Linked DNA regions of Homo sapiens: region 2 is linked to region 1. A link means that fine-mapping ties the variant in region 1 to the expression of a gene that starts in the linked region. Tissue or cell type: esophagus muscle. Region 1 holds a variant in brackets; the other region holds the start of a gene. All regions are shown on one strand. Distances are between the middles of the regions.

Region 1 (8,000 bases):
GGCCTGCAGCAGGTGCCGGGTGCCGGGAAGCAGGAGACATCTCTGTTACTCCACTGTCCTCAGTGGGGAGCCACGGCTGAGCGTGAGAAAGGGCTTATAGGCTGAAGGCCAGGCAGACGGGAATGGCCAGGCAGAGGAGGGGAGGACGAGCCGGGTAGAAACAGTGGATAGAAACACGGAGGGCCACACGGCCAACGGTCAGGGGACTGGCACACCAGCCAGATTCACCCGCGGCGATGCCGGTGCAGAGAAGCTCGGCATCTGAATTTAACCCGGGTTGTGGTTTGACTCAGTCTGACGTGGAGAGAAGGGCCAGGGAGTCACGGGGGGGTGGTGGGCTGTGTGCTGGTTTAGGGGCTGGGACATGGAGGGGTGAAGGCGGGAGTCAGTCGCATCCGCTGGGCAGGGGCCTGGGGCTGCAGACAAGGTGGGAGGTGGCAGCTACGGAGGAAGCTGCAAGGGATTCTGCAGTTCCCCGGGGAGACAGGAGCCCAAGGGACCGGGGGGTGAGGGGGTTGGAAGGGGCACCTGTGGATGTCCTGAGACTTCCAGGAAGTGGGACAGGATCAGTGATGGAGATAGAGACAGAGTCATCAGGGCCGAGAGGAATGACAGTAACAGCGAGGTTGAAGTGGGCACCCCCGTCTAGCAGCACGGGGTGTGGAGCTGGCTTGTGGACGGCCAGGGAACAGGACGCTTTGAGGTGGCAGCCAGGGGCAGGGATGCTTTTGATCGCCAAGGGAGAAGACTTGATGCAGAGTTTCAGGAGCCTCCATGACTTCCCCATCTGAAGACCTTTTTTACTTTAATGGGATTGAAGTGATCACCAGAATAGTTAATGGTGTGCTCCGTTCCTATTTCTCTGGTTTTTCTAAGGTCCACAGGCTGCAGACATCGTTTGTACTTCTCCCTGGTGCCAAAGACCAGTTAATGCCGACTTTGATGGGCTCAGTGCAGGCCACATTGTCACGTGTAACTCTACACTGAGAATTATTTTAGAAGGTTAGACTCCTAAAAATGTTTTGTTTTTCCAAATGGTGGCCTCTGGGTCTGACTTCACCTCTTTTGCAATGATCAGCACTAGGATATGGTTTTGGAGACGGTTGTGCAGAGCCAGGGCTTTCACCAAAGCTTGGCCGCTCGGACAGGACTCACGATGGAAGACGGTCAGGTGCCCCAGGTTTCAGATGCCTGCCTCCTCCCATGCGTGGTGAGGGGCCTGCCTCCTTTATAGCTTTCCGCTGCCAGGCTGGCGCCTCCTCCCCTCACCCCCATCTCCTCCAGAGGAAGACCAACTTAATCAAATCTTACCACAACTACGTACTGCCTCCTGGAAAAAGCCTGATTTCTCGCCCCCTCTTGTCCCTCCCTGCGTGGAGGCAGGCCCTTTGTCCAGTGCCCATGTGGCTTGGTGGGTGGTCTTTCTAAGTTATCAGAGGACATTAGCAAACACACACGTCCGTTGGCCTAACGCCCAATCTGCAGCCAGCCTTATGAATAATCAACGTGACTTGTCTCTGTAGTTCAATGCCTATATCTGCCTCTCAGTTGTTATTGAAGCTGGGGGCAAAAAAGATGGATTATTCATTGGAAACCTCAAAACCTCGACAGCTGAGCTTTCTTACACATGCCTGTGTGGCCCCCGTGGTATCTTAGTGTTCACCTCCCCATTTGCACACAGGAAGCCAGTCACATTACTGGATTCCTGGTGAGTTTGACTTTTCATTCTGTCTTGAATCTCCCTCCCTTCCCCAACCCCATACCCCACCCTACTCCATCCCTTTTTCTTGGGTCTTCCTGATCTCAACCCCTCCATCTGTCCTCCACGTTGTCTGCATAGTGAGCCTCCTAACACACGGATCCCCCCATGGCCTTGTCTGCTCAGGTTTCTAAGGTCCCCAGTAACCACGCTCACACTGCGTAAGCACGAACGGTCTGGTCCACACCTCATCACTTGGCGTGCATGTGAATGTTTTAGCAAGTTAGCTCTTGCAATTATTGCCTGCCGATCCCCTGGGCTGCATTCACACATGCCGTGAGTCTTCAGACACCCAGGTCTCAGGACCTGAGGGGCTCCTGTGTGCTTTCCGTGAGGAACTGTCTTTCTGCTCACGACTCCATGTCACATGCCACCATCAGGAAGTCCTCCCTCAATGCCCCAAGCCTACTCAGGCTCCCACTTTCCTGCCCATGAAATGTGTGTAACTTCTAGGGTGTCCTGAGAAGCAAAGACCATGTCCCTGCATTTTTGCATCCTCAGAACTTAGCCTGATACTCACAATGAAATGAGTTCACTTAACGACACAACGAACGAATGTGCAGGTACTTCTGCAGGGGGTGATGTGGGGATGCGTGCATTGATTCTGTGGCTCAGCCCTGAGTTGGGGGCAGGAGGCAGGTGCTGGGAGGAGGATTTTATGTCTTAGGAAGCACAGGAAGGCCTTGCCAGGATCCAAGAAAAAATGGAAAGTAGACCAATGTAAGCGTTAAAAGAACACATTTTATCTTTTAAATGTGTGTACACAGTACAGTTGACTTTTTTGTATACAATTCTATGAGTTTAAACACACATATAGATTAGCGTAACCACTAATTATAAGATTGTAGGGAACTGGGGAAAAAATGCATGCATTAAGGAATGATACGGCATATTTGGGGGACAGAGAACAGGCTTGATGAGGACAGAGTCTATTTAAAAGAGACAGTGGGCACCGCAATTGGAGGGGAAGGCGGGGCAGGGTTTTAGAGAACCCCTGAGTGCTGGGCTACAGGATTCAGTAAAGTTATTGATGAGATTGGCTGCATTGTGGATTCTGAAATATTTATTTAATACCTCGAGGAGGGTGTGAGTAGATTGTGCTGATGATCGCATAACTCTGACTATACTAAGAACCACTGAGTTGCACCCAGAGCTTGCATTACTGAGCGCTTTACCAGTTAGGAAGGTTTCGCGTATTCCGTACTTTAAATCTAAGGTGACTTGACTGTAAGGCCTGCGAGTATTTCCTGGACCACTCAGAGGAAGAATGCTGTGAATGAGAACTACAGCCCTGTAAGACACGTCCTGTATCATTGTTGAGATGGGAAAGTGCATCTTAAGACAGTTAGCAGGCCAAGGAGCGACTTTAAAGGGTGAGCTCTGCCTAGAGGGAAAAGCGAATGCACTAATTGAAATCCAACACCCTGGGCTGGAGTAAATGAACCGTCAGCCACCCATGGGGCTTCATTTCTTGGTGATGGATAAATAGCTGGGATTCCTTGAAGCTAGAAGCCATGGGGAAATTCTGTTCTGCTTAGCTTTGTCAACAGTACAGTCTGCCTTAACTGACTTGGAGGTAAATAGATTCGGAGAGTGTGAGCTAAAACCCATTAAATCAGGTGAAGACACAAAGGCAAGCACAGCCAATGTGGTTTAAGGCAAAGCTAATGTCCCTTCGGCCTTAACTGACGGACTTTCCTAGCAGTCCTCACCCTCTGCAACCCAGGGCTCCTAGGAGGAGCTCATGGCAGAGAAAGCCTTCTGGCTTCTGCCACTGCCTCCTCAACTACATGTATACATCAGTGTATATGCATGGGTATGAAATGAACATTTTATGTCACCATTAGCAGAGGAAAGCTGGAACTCTTTCAAACCCCACCCAAAATTCACTCTGACTACTGAGCAGTCCTGTTGTTTATTTTGGAGGCCACTTAACCCTGGAGCAGTCCATAAGCTCCACTTAATCCCCTCTTCTTTCATGATTTCTTTTAAAGAGACATCTTGGGTTCTGTAGGGGAACATTTGTGCTTCACTGTAAAACTCCATTTGAGGCCTGCTCACGGCCTGCCACCTTATCTGCTTGCAGCCTTCATTGCTTGGGAGCTGTTTTACAGCTTCATAAGTTGTAAATAGCTGCTGGCAATGCAAACGCGCTTGTCTGTGGGCAGGAAATGAATTCTGTCTGGTAGAGGGAATGCTTCCTACCTTGTAGGAAAGCCAATATTTTTTGTCCATTAGCAAGTTTATATCAGTATTCCTAATCATTAAATGTGTTCTTCGGATTGTCCTTTGAACCAGTTATAGCATTTGAGTTAAGTAAAATGAATACACTGTTGTTTATTTTATACCTGTATGAAAGTTATGGGTTTTTTGGTGGGGGGGGGGTGTTTTTTTTGTTTTTTTTTTTGTTTTTTTTGAGGTGGAATCTCGTTCTGTCGCCCAGGCTGGAGTACAGTGGCGCAATCTCGGCTCACTGCAAGCTCCTCCTCCCAGGTTCACACCATTCTTCTGCCTCAGCTTCCCAAAAGTT[A/C]TGATTTTTAAAAAATTATCTTTTAACATTTTTTAGCTAGAAACTTCTGGGTCAATATATAAATAGATGAGCCTGGTTATATCTGAGGTTTTCACTGAGGTAACAACAAAAATAAAACAACACGATGCCACCGAGCCATCGTTCCCCAACTTACGTCTGTCCCCTCCACATGTCCTGCACGCACTCCTGTTTCTGGGGTGTGTGCATGTGTGTGTGTGTGTAAAGGTTTGCAATGAAATTAGAATCATTGGTTTTTGTTGGGGGTGGGGAGTTGTATTGTTTTGAGACAGGGTCTCGCTCTGTCACCCACGCTGGAGTGAAGGGTCACAATCACAGTTCACTGCAGCCTCAACTTCCTGGGCTCAAGTGATCCTCCCACCTCAGCCTCCCAAGTAGCGGAAACTATAGGCATGTGACACCATGCCGGGCTTGCTTATCTATGTCTGTCTGTCTGTCTGTCTATCATCCATCTATCTATCTATCTATCTAATCTATCTATCTATCTATCTATCTATCTATCTATCTATCTATCTTTCTATCTATCTAGATGGGGTCTGCCTATGTTGCCCAGGCTGGTCTCAAACTCCTGGGCTTAAGCAATCCAACTACCTCAGCCTCCCAAAGTGCTGGGATTACAGGTGTTAGCCACTTTGCCCAGCTGAAGTTAGAGTTTAGAGCACATTGCTGTAAATTGCGATTACCAAGGGTATTGAAAAATCCATGAAAATAATAAACAGCAAGTTGACTTCAGAATTTGTGCGTTTGAGGCTTTTCGCCTTGATCTCCAGGTAACACACAGGCTCCTTGGCGAGAGCCAGTGGTGATACAATGAGAACACCGCCTGCTGCATCTAATATTTGCAGCTTAGAATTCACAGCTAACTTTTTAAAATGTACCAGTGTGGGGGAAATGGTGCTTTATTTGCTGGATAGGAAAATTGGCCAAGATCAGAATTCTGAAGGCAGTGTCACAGCACAAAGAAACTAGCTACTGAAGTCACATCCTAAACATTCGAGAGGTTGATTTCCTTTTCTACTGCATTACAAAAAGGTTTATTTACTGCTTATCCATATAGTGAGATAGAGATTAGATCTCAGTTTTTGGTTAAGAACAAGCATTATCATAAATGTGTGTGTGTGTTGTGTGTGCATTTTACAGGATTTTTAAAAATACACAGAGAATTTTTCACAGTTGTTAACTCTGGTAAATGGTGGGGAAGGCAGGGGTGAGAACTGATCTATTATTCATAATCTCAATGATGAACAAGCTATTTCCAAAAATAGGTGGATTATTTAAAATTATTATTATTAGGATATTTTGGGCTTCTAGAAACAAAAACTTAACAAAAAAGTCACTTAAAGAATTTAGGGGTCTTTTTTTCTGACATGAAAAGAACAAAATAAAGGATGATTTCAGTTTGGTCCGTCAGTGACTTAGAAGTGTTTTTCAGGACCCAAGGCTTTCCGCCTTCCCACTGGGCCATTTTCAGCGTGTCCCGTGGCCTCTGGGGGCTTCAGTGATCCAGGCGTCACATTAGACATGACAGTGTCCAGCAAAGAGAAGTATTTCTGCTTTGCATCTGTTTATAACAGTGAGAAAAACTCCCCCAGAATCCCACCAGCAATTGATTCTCACGTTGCATTGGCCAGGATTGAGGCCAGCTGTGCCATGCTTAGCGCAGTCATTTGTATTGCGATCACCGTGATTAGCTCAGACCCATCCTGGGACTTCTCCTTGGGCTTGAAGACATGGCCAGGTGGAGATCGGTGCCCCCCAGAAGAAGTCTTTGTTCTGCCAATAAAGAAGACACAGACAACAGTGTCTAACAGGAAAAGCCCCTTTTTACTTTATACCCTTCCGTATTGCTTCAACAATCAAATACTTTATTTTATTGTTTGAGACAGAGTCCTGCTGTGTCGCCCAGGCTGGAGCGCAGTGGCGCCATCTCTGCTCACTGCCACCTCCACCTCCCAGATTCAAGCGATTCTCCTGCCTCAGCCTCCCGAGTAGCTGGGATTACAGGCGCCTACCAAAATGCTCGGCTAGTTTTTGTATTTTTAGTAGAGATGGGGTTTCTCCATGTTGGTCAGACCGGTCTCGAACTCCTGACCTCAAGTGATCCACTCACCTCAGCCTCCCCAAGTGCTGGGATTACAGGCGTGAGCCACTGCGCCCAGCCTTTTTTTTCTTTAGATAGAGTGTTGCTCTTATTGCCCAGGCTGGAGTGCAGTGGCACAATCTCAGCTCACTGCAAGCTCCACCTCCCGGGTTCACACCATTCTCCTGCCTCAGCCTCCCGAGTAGCTGGGACTACAGGTGCCCACCACCACGCCTGGCTAATCTTTTGTATTTTTAGTAGAGACAGGGTTTCACCATGTTAGCCAGGATGATCTTGATCTCCTGACCTTGTGACCTGCCCGCCTCAGCCTCGCAAAGTGCTGGGATTACAGGTGTGAGCCACCGTGCCCGGCCAGATACTTTCATAATTAACTTTTTGAATGTATGTGTGTCCTACTTTAAAATGAAAGATACTCTTTCTTGATTCCATTTCCATGCAGCTTGGCCCCGTGATGCTAGGGACCATGGCTTTTTCTTGCAGTGTGACTCACCATTTGCCAAAGCAAATCTCTTGCCTTGCATCAGCTCAGTCTCTTTGTCTGCAAATTAAATCAGTAGCCCTTTCCACTGCCTATCTCGCAGGATATAGTGCCAAAAATACTCACAAAGTCACCATCCAGGAAGAATCATTTGCCCCTGCTGCCACTGTCTCCTGCAAGGCACATGAAAGCTGCTGAGGCTCGGTATTTATTATGCTATAAAATTCAACACAAGGGGAGAGAACAAGCAAATTCCATGAGCATATATAAGTGTATCGGATCTACTCCATTGATGCTGGAGCTATATTTTCACAGTAGGATCCTCTTTTGTTAAATATTACAGTAGTAGGAAAACCTAGCAGAAGAATAGTTCACTGTTTCTCTGATTTTGTGAGTGATGTGGGCTGTGGAATTTACTCTTTGCTGCTCTTCCCCCAACCTGCACCCTACCCCTGCCTCCGAGGTCAGCCTTGCCTGCTGCCCCTGACTGAGAGGACCCCGACGTCACCCCACCCCAGGTTATACTCCTCTGAGAAGGTCCCTTCATCCCTTCCCCGAAATACATCCCCTCAAATCTCTAATTTGTGTGAACCATTAATTTCAGATATTGTAGGAAAAATAAGCAGGGAAAATACGCAAAACAAAACGTGGATGGCACATAACCCATAGCATCTCGCAGGGTGTGTACACTGAAGAAGTCTTTACCAACCCGTAGTTAGGAAAATGCGTGTTCAGAATAACTGGGCCTTCCCGCGGTCCTCTGAGTCAAACAGATGACCACACATTGCCAGAATGAGAAGCAGAGCAGCTTCACATCCCTGCTTCTGAAATGTTTCCCAACAGCTCATTGAAACAATCTCGAGACACCTCTCTCCCCCAAACCCAGCGTGTTTCGGGAATGGCTCTAGGAATTCTACTTTTGCATTGCCTCACTCTCCCTTTCCCCGTCCAGACCATGGTATTGGATTTACAGCATTTCTTACATCCTATAAAAGTCCTTTTCTGCCAACAGCCTGGAGCGCGCTGGATTGAATGACGCTCTCCCAGCACAGCCGGCATTTGCAGTGCATTAGAATCTTGCCGTCACTTGCACACGTCACCAAGTTACTTTAGT
Region 2 (8,120 bases), 210 kb before region 1:
CCTTGCAAGCTGAAGCTGGATGGCTAGACAGAAACTTCAAAAGACTTATCACAACACGTGGGTCTTTCAAATATTTCCCCAGAACACCTGCATCTTCCAGACTGTGCTCTAGGAAATAACCATGATGGCAACACTACCTACCACTACCATCCTCACTAAAGATAGCTGGAGCCCAACATCTAGAAAATTTCATAACTGGCTTACCCTCTAGACTGGGTTTATCGTCTGCTCTGAACATTAATCATTGTTTTTGTTTCCTTGTTCTAATCTATGTTTTTCCCCCTTTTACAGATCTCTCATCTTACAATTTCTAACTCAAATCATCTCCCCACAGCAATCAACTTAGCTTCTTTTTTTTGTTAATGAAATTTCTAGGGAAGTTTCAGATGGAGAAATGTGTGGACCATTCAGGCCCTAAAAGTTGGTATAAAGATTATTTTACTGTGAAAATATTTGATCTAAGAAAGACGCATCAAGAAATTTTATTTGAACTTCCCTTATTTCACTAAAGCAGAGCCCCCAGAAAATACAGCTGCCATTGGCCTCCCTCTGAGGAAGTTTCCTGTAAATTCCACTACTGTAGAGACAGATTGCCCATTCTCATAAGCATCCAAAAGCCCAAAAGAACCTTCCACAACTTCCTACTGAAACTCCAAAATCTCCCAACACATTTTGTTAAGTGGATCTATAAACCTTTATTTCTATTTAGTGAGTTACTCTAAACCTTGTCTTTTCTCCTGTTAACCTGTTGTTATCAGTTAATTTGCAGGTCTTCAAACACAGGACCGACATTGAATGAGGAAAAGCTTTCCTTCCAACATAGACAATACGACTACCTGTAGAACATCATTTTGAATGTACAAAAAATTATTAAGCAGATTTAGCAAGTTTTCAGGACATGAGATCAATTGCAGATATCAACTATATTTCCATATATTAGCAACAATCAGAAACAAATGAAAAAATCACCATTTACGATATTATCAAAAAACACAAGACCTTGCACAGTGGCTCATGCCTGTAATCCCTACACTTTGGGAAGCTGAGGTGGGAGGATTGCTTGAGCCCAGGAGTTCAAGACCAGCCTGGGCAACATAGTGGGACTCCGCCTCTACAAAGAATTTAAAAAATGAATTGGGCATGGTCATGTGTACTTGTAGTCCCAGCTACTCAGGAGGTTGAGGTGGGAGGATAGCTTGATCCCAGGAGGGTCGAGGCTTCAAGATGAGCCATGATCACACCATTGCACTTCAGCCTGGGAGACAGAGTGAGATCCTGTCTCAAAAAAAAAAAAAAAAAAAAAAGAAGAAAAAAAGAAAAACAAAATAAAAAAACAAATACTTAGGTTAAAATCTAACAACAGTTATATTTTTTTTTTTTGAGATGGAGTCTCGCTCTGTTGCCCCAGGTGGAGTGCAGTGGCAAGATCTCTGCTCACTGCAAGCTCTGTCTCCCGGGTTCATGCCATTCTCCTGCCTCAGCCTTCCAAGTAGCTGGGGCTACAGGCGCATGCCACCACGCCCGGCTAATTTTTTGTATTTTTAGTAGAGATGGGGTTTCACTGTGTTAGCCAGGATGGTCTCAATCTCCTGACCTTGTGATCGGCCCGCCTTGGCCTCCCAAAGTGGCAGGCGTGAGCCACTGCGTCTGGCCAGAGAAATTTTAAAAGACCTAAATGTTAATGGGTCAGAAGATTCAATATGGTTAAAATGTCAATTCTCCCCAAATTCATCTGTAGAGTCAACACAATCTCAATCAAAATCCCAGCAGTATTTTTTTGTGCAAAATGAGAAGTCGACTCTAAGATTTAAAAGGAAATCTGAAGAATCTAGAAGATACAAAATAACCTTGAAAAATAAAGTTGTAGGACATAAACTATCTGATTTCATCACTTATTTATATAGCTACAATAATCAAAACAGCATGGTGCTGGCAGCAAAAAGACAAATAGCTCAATGGAACACAATAGGAAGCCTAAAATGAAACACATACATATGCAACACAGATTTTGATGTAAGCACAAAGGAAATGCAGTAGAGACAAAAATAACTTTTTAATAAATGATGCTGGAACATTTGGATATGTATACATGCAAAAAAATGAACTTTGGTCCCTATCCCATACCGTATACAAAAATTAATTAAAAGCAGATCTTATCCTTTGAGTCCAGTAGGTTGAGGCTGCAGTGAGCTGTGATTACACCACTGCATTCCAGCCTGGGCAACGGAGTGAGAAACTGCCTGGAGAAAAAAAAAAAAAAAAGTAGAACCTAGACCTGATATACAACCTAAAGCAGTAATATTTCTAGAAGAAATCCTAGGAGAAAATATTTGTGATCGTGGAGATGAAGAATCTATCAAATACTAAACTTTTTTTACCACCTTGACCAAAAGTAATTGGTTTATATACTTCATCATATCATTTAATTCAAAATCTACAGAGATCAATGTCACTTTCTCAGTAAAAGTACGTGAGTCTTCAATGATGCCCTGAACTCACACTCCCAAGTAAACCATAACACCATATTTCCAGAGTAGAGTTTATTAGAACAATAACTGGTGATAATGATAAATATTGATCAAAGACTGAGCCTAGGAAGTGGGTTTTTTGAGGCTGCATATACTCAAGGCAATTCTTCAGAACCACAGAGGGCTCATTGGATCCTATTAAAAGCTGAGAGTGAATGAATAAACAGATAAAACAGAGACCTGAGTAGACGGTAGTCGATATTCTTTTACATGTATTCTACCTCTAGATTCCATAGAAAGAACTAAAAGTACATGAATTTCACTACCAACATCTCCATCAGTTACCAGCTGTATCACCTTGGATCAGTCAGGTAACCTCCCGCGAATCTGGTTGCTTCCGGGGCAGGGGATCCGCGGGCTGCAGGTTTGAGCCTGGTTGCCGGCAGGGTGGAGCAGCTGGAGGGCCAAGCCTTTGAGCTCCAGGGGGGGTGGCCGGGACAGTGGGTAGTGCCAGCCGATCGGCGTCCTGGGGATTGCCTGAATGTGAGGTCTGGGTTCACCCCGCGGTGACCTGAGTCCTGGGATGCCCCTACAGGGATTTGCTGCCTCAGGGATCCGAAGTCTCTTTCATTCCCTTACTGGGGATTTGAGGTCTGGAGGTACTCCTGCGGGGGTCTGAGATCTCGGGGTCACCCTGTGGGGGTCTGAAGCCTCGGGGTCCCCGCGTGGGGTCTGAGGTATCAGAGTCCCCTCCGTTGGGTCTGAGGTCTCGGGGTCCCCCATCCCCGGGATCGGAGGTCCGGCTCCCCGGAGCAGGCAGGGCGGTGCGTCTGGCCCTGAACAGTAACGTGGCGCGCCAGCCCCAGGTGGTGTCGGGCTAGGGGGGCATAACGGTGCCGAAAGTCCGCACAAAGCCGTCCGCTGGGGTCCCGCCGCGTCCGCGAGGGAATGACTGTGCCCCCTCCCCTTCCTGATCCTCAGCTCAGGTGAGCCCAGATGAGGCGCCGGGTAGCTTCTAAGTCACTAATGGAAATAGAAGGCTAATTCAGGGGTTAGGGGCCGTCGTCCTCCTTACTCCCAGGAGAAGAGAAAAACCCACGGCCCAGCAGCCAGAGGCGCGGCGAGGCGGAATCGGGCCCCCTCCCCGGGGGCTCAGCTCCCTCCAGCCTCCCGCCTCACCTACAGAGAAATCCCGGAAACGCGGATTCAGCGGAGCGCGGTGACGGCGGCGCGCTCACCCCGCGCATGCCCAGTGCCCGCGCGCGCCGCCAGGCTCGCAAGCACCGCGTAGGCCAGCTGGCCGGATCCCGCCGTCTGTCATGGCGGCCCCCATCCTGAAAGGTGAGGTACTTCCTGCTGCCTGCTCCAGCAGCGGGAGTTTGAGGACCGGCACCCCTCGTCGCGGGCGCACTCGGGGGATCCCGTGGGAGGAGCCCCGCTCGCCCCTCCCTCGCTGCCTGTCTCCCCCAGACCCCCTGCCGCCTCCTTCCTCCCCCGCTGCCTGTCCCACCAAAACCCCCTGCTCCTGCTCTCTCCCCCGCTGCCTGTCCCCCCAAAACCCCCGGCTGCCTGCTTCGTCTCCCGTGCTCCCTGTCCCCCCAAACCCCCGACTGCCTGCTTCCTCCCCCGTACTGCTTGTGCCCCAACCCCCGTGCTGCTAGTTCCCCTCAATCCCCCGCTGCCTGCTCCCTCCCCCATGCTGCCTGTCCCCCAAATCCCGCCTTTCCCCCTACCTGCTTTCACCCCTGCTGCCTTAGTCCCTGGATCTGGGGCTCACTGGCAGGCAGAGTCCTGCCCTCCGGAAGTTGGTGTGGGGCCCTCCTGGGTCTGGTCCTGTTCGACCCCCTCTGAGGCCCACCTGGAGGAGCGGCAGTTGAGTTTCTATGCTAATTGTTCCAATAATAGGAGCCGCCTTTTACTGCGGAGTCTTTGTGTGCCAGGCGCTGTGCTTAGGCTAGTATGGTATTGTCTGATTTTTTTAACCGCTCTATCAACTCTCTTATATCATTTTACAGGCAGAAACTAAGGCATCGGACGTTTAGGTGACTCTCCCTGTGTGTGGCTAGTCAGTGCTGACAGGGCCTTAGACCGGAGCTGCTGTCCTAACCAGTATATGATACCGCACGCAGTCCCACCCTCTGTGCACCTGGAAGAGCCCAGGAGAGGGGAATAGCGGACACGTGTCTTGTAGAGTTTGACCGTGAGAAAAAAGGGGCCTGTATTGTGGGGCCTGGAGTCATAAAACCTCATAGCCAAAAGTAAAGACTAGAGGCTTTATACAAAGTCTGTAATCAGATGTGGCTATTTTTCTAATGTTAGTATTTTGTTAAATTAACCTGGTTTTCTTTTAGCGTTACCCCCAATCATTGACCAACGGCACACCTGGAAAATGCTTTTAAACATCAGGTTTTGAGAAGAGGATATCCACTAGAACAGGGGTCCACTCACTATGCCCCCCAGGCCATATCTAGCCTGCTGCCTGTTTTTGTAAGGGTCTACGAGCTAAGAATGTCTTTTACATTTTTAAGTGATTTTAAAAAAAGGTCAAATGAAAAATTATATCACATTCACATTTCCTTCTCCATAAATAAAGTTTTATTGGAACACAGGCCGGCCCGTTAATATATTACCTATGGTTATGTTTGTGCCACAACCGTGAAGTTGAGTAGTTGTGGCAAATACTGTATTGGCCACAAAGCCTGAAATATTTACCATCTGTCTCTTTACAGAAAATAGGTTTCTGCACTGGAAAAATTAAGCGTAAGAATTTGGGGAAAGCAACTAATTTTACAAATGTAAACTCTCATGTATTGTATGGGTACAGTTGTTCTTTGCTTAAAATTTTAATAAATTCCACTGAAGCTATTTTGAAAAGGCTTTCAGTAGAAATTTATTTATGAGACAGAGTCTTACTCTCTTGCCCAGGCTGGAGCGCAGTGATGTGATCACATAATAGCTCAAGCAATTCTGCTTCAGCCTCCTGAGTAACTTGGGACTACAGGCACTACCACGCCCGGTTATTTTTATTTTTATTTTTTAATTTATTATTTTTTTGTAGAGCCAGGGTCTCACTATGTTGCCTAGGCTGGTCTTGAATTCCTAGCCTCAAGCAATCCTCCCGCCTCCACCTTGCAAAATGCTGGGATTACAGGCATGAGCTACTTTGTTCAGCCAGTAGAAGAAACTTCATTTACTTTTCTTATTTTTGAGGCAAGGTCTTTCTCTGCTGCCCAGGCTGGAGTGCAATGGTGCGATCATAACTCAGCTTCTACCTCCTGGGCTCTAGGGATTCTCCCACCTCAGCTTCTCCACCCTACCCACCCCCATTTCCCACCCAGTAGCTGGGACTACAGCCACTCGCCACCATTCCTGGCTAATTAAAAACAAAATTTTTTTTAGAGACAGGGTTTCACTATGTTGCCCAGGCTGGTCTCAAACTTCTGTGCCCAAGTGATCCCACTGCCTTGGCCTTCCAGAGTGCTGCAATTACAGCATGAGCCACCACACCTGGCCAGTAGAGTAAATTTTTGTTTTACTTTTTTCTTTTTTTTTTTTTGAAACGGGTCTCGCCCTGTCACCCAGGCTGGAGTGCAATGGCGCAATCTCGGCTCACTGCAACCTCTGCCTCCCGGGTTCAAGTGATTCTCCTGCCTCAGCCTCCCAGTAGCTGGGATTACAGGTGCCCGCCACCATGCTCGGCTAATTTTTTGTATCTTTTAGTAGAGATGGTTTTTCACCATGTTGGCCCGGCTGGTCTCAAACCCCTGACTTCGTGGATCCACCCACTTCCGCCTCCCACAGTGCTGGGATTACAGGCGTGAGCCACTGTGCCGGCCTCGGTTTACTCTTAAATGTAAATAGAACAAAATCTATTGGGCAGGGGATGCTGGAATTTCAAATGTATGTTTCATGTTCATATCTTGTTTTCAGATGTAGTGGCCTATGTTGAAGTGTGGTCATCCAATGGAACAGAAAATTATTCAAAGACATTTACAACACAGCTTGTGGATATGGGGGCAAAGGTAAGACACTTATTTTGCTGTTGATTCATATGACAGTCTTCTGATTGGTAAAAAGTTACATTTGCATTTTCTTATTTTGGGAGTTTTTACTTAGAATCTGGACGAAGCAATGGGTAAGCGGTGGGAGAAAAAAGAGCCAAAGTGTGAAGAATTTAGAACAGTAGGACTTTCAGAACTCAATGCCTGTGGGCATTGAGTGAGGAGGAGGAACCTAGGATGAAATGCTGGATTCTTACACTGGTTACTTGAATGCATAGTGCTATTAAGCAAAGTGAGGAATACAGGAAAAGGAACAGGTTTCTAAGGGAAAAATTGTAAATTTGGGCATACTGAAAAATATCTGTTAGATATTTGGATATACAAGTCTGGAGCTTGGAGTGTTCAAGGCTAGAGATGATGATCTAGGGGGTCAGGACCATAGGGGTCATGTGAAGTCACAGGTGTGGACATCGTCCCATGTCAGGCATGGTTAGGATGAAGAGTGGTGACAGAGGAGCGTTGTTCAGTATTCAAGGACAGGCGATGGGAGCAGGGACCCAGTGACAGAGGGAGAGAAGAATGCCAGGAGAAGGAGAAAGGAAGTGTGGAAGTCAAAGTAGGGAGTAATTTTTTTTTTTTGAGACGGAGTCTCGCTCTGTCGCTAGGCTGGAGTGCAGTGACGCGATCTCAGCTCACTGCAATCTCTGCCTTCTGGGTTCAAGCGATTGTCCTGCCTCAGCCTTCCAAGTATCTGGGACTACAGGCACATGCCACCATGCCTAGCTAATTTTTTTTTTTGTATTTTTAGTAAAGACGGGGTTTCACCATGTTGGCCAGGATGGTCTCAATCTCCTGATCTCGTGATCCGCCCACCTCGGCCTCCCAAAGTGCTGGGATTACAGGCATGAGCCACCGAGCCCGGCCAGGAGTAATTTTTTAATTGCCTTTCAGAACTAGAATGGAGTAATTTTAAAGATAGAATTTTTAAAAACTACAGAAAGTTCAAGAAAAATAGGATGGGCAAATGTACTTTGGATTTGAACACTGTAAGGTCATTGCTGAACTTAGTGCAGTTTTCAGTGAAATGGGCAGGAATCATTGAGCTATGAGGAAATGGAGATAGCAAACAATTTGCCTTATTCAAGGTTTCTTAGTATAGCCATCTCTGTTATCAGATTTACTATCACGTACTGCTTGTGTTCAGGTAGCCTCTATTTGACTTAATAATGTCCTTGATACCAAATAGGTATCTTTTGCCCACGCACACTAAACCGATCACTTTGATGACGGGTTTTACAAAAGGGAAAAGATTCATTCACGGGGAAGCCCAGCTAGGAGGCAGAAGAGTACTCACATCTTCATTCCCAAAGATAAGGCTTAGGGATATTTATCAGTTAGGGAAGTAGGGTGATCTAAGCTGTGGGGAAAAATGAAGTACATGATCTGCACAAGCATAGTTGGGATTCATGGAATGCATGTTTAGAAAACAGGCATTATTAGGAGGCCAAGGCAGGCGGATCACCTGAGGTCAGGAGTTCGAGACCAGCCTGGCCAACATAGTGAAACCCCATCTCTACTAAAAATACAAAAAAAAGCCAGGTGTGGTGGCACACACCTGTAGTCTCAGTGATTCGGGAGGCTGAGGCAGGAG

What was found. PIP is the estimated chance that this variant, and not a neighbour inherited with it, causes the effect.
Region 2: it holds the start of MCPH1-DT, and the variant in region 1 is fine-mapped to the expression of MCPH1-DT in esophagus muscle (GTEx, PIP above 0.99).

Annotation. Positions count from the first base shown.
Region 1 is chr8:6,613,123-6,621,122 of GRCh38, forward strand. The region is part of intron 12 of MCPH1 (microcephalin 1); the gene reads left to right. It overlaps MCPH1-AS1 (MCPH1 antisense RNA 1), which reads right to left. Exons shown (of 5, transcript NR_125386.1): 4 at 7,013-7,102; 5 at 2,481-6,080. Among named protein-coding and RNA genes, the nearest start is that of MIR8055, 5.1 kb to the right of the region's middle. RefSeq lists an enhancer at 2,953-3,454. The variant A/C (reference allele first, on the strand shown) is at 4,290.
Region 2 is chr8:6,402,881-6,411,000 of GRCh38, forward strand. It overlaps MCPH1-DT (MCPH1 divergent transcript), which reads right to left and starts at 3,668. Exons shown (of 2, transcript NR_040040.1): 1 at 2,826-3,668; 2 at 676-2,240. It overlaps MCPH1 (microcephalin 1), which reads left to right and starts at 3,747. Exons shown (of 14, transcript NM_024596.5): 1 at 3,747-3,809; 2 at 6,399-6,490. The coding sequence starts at 3,788. RefSeq lists silencers at 3,489-3,568, 3,829-4,008.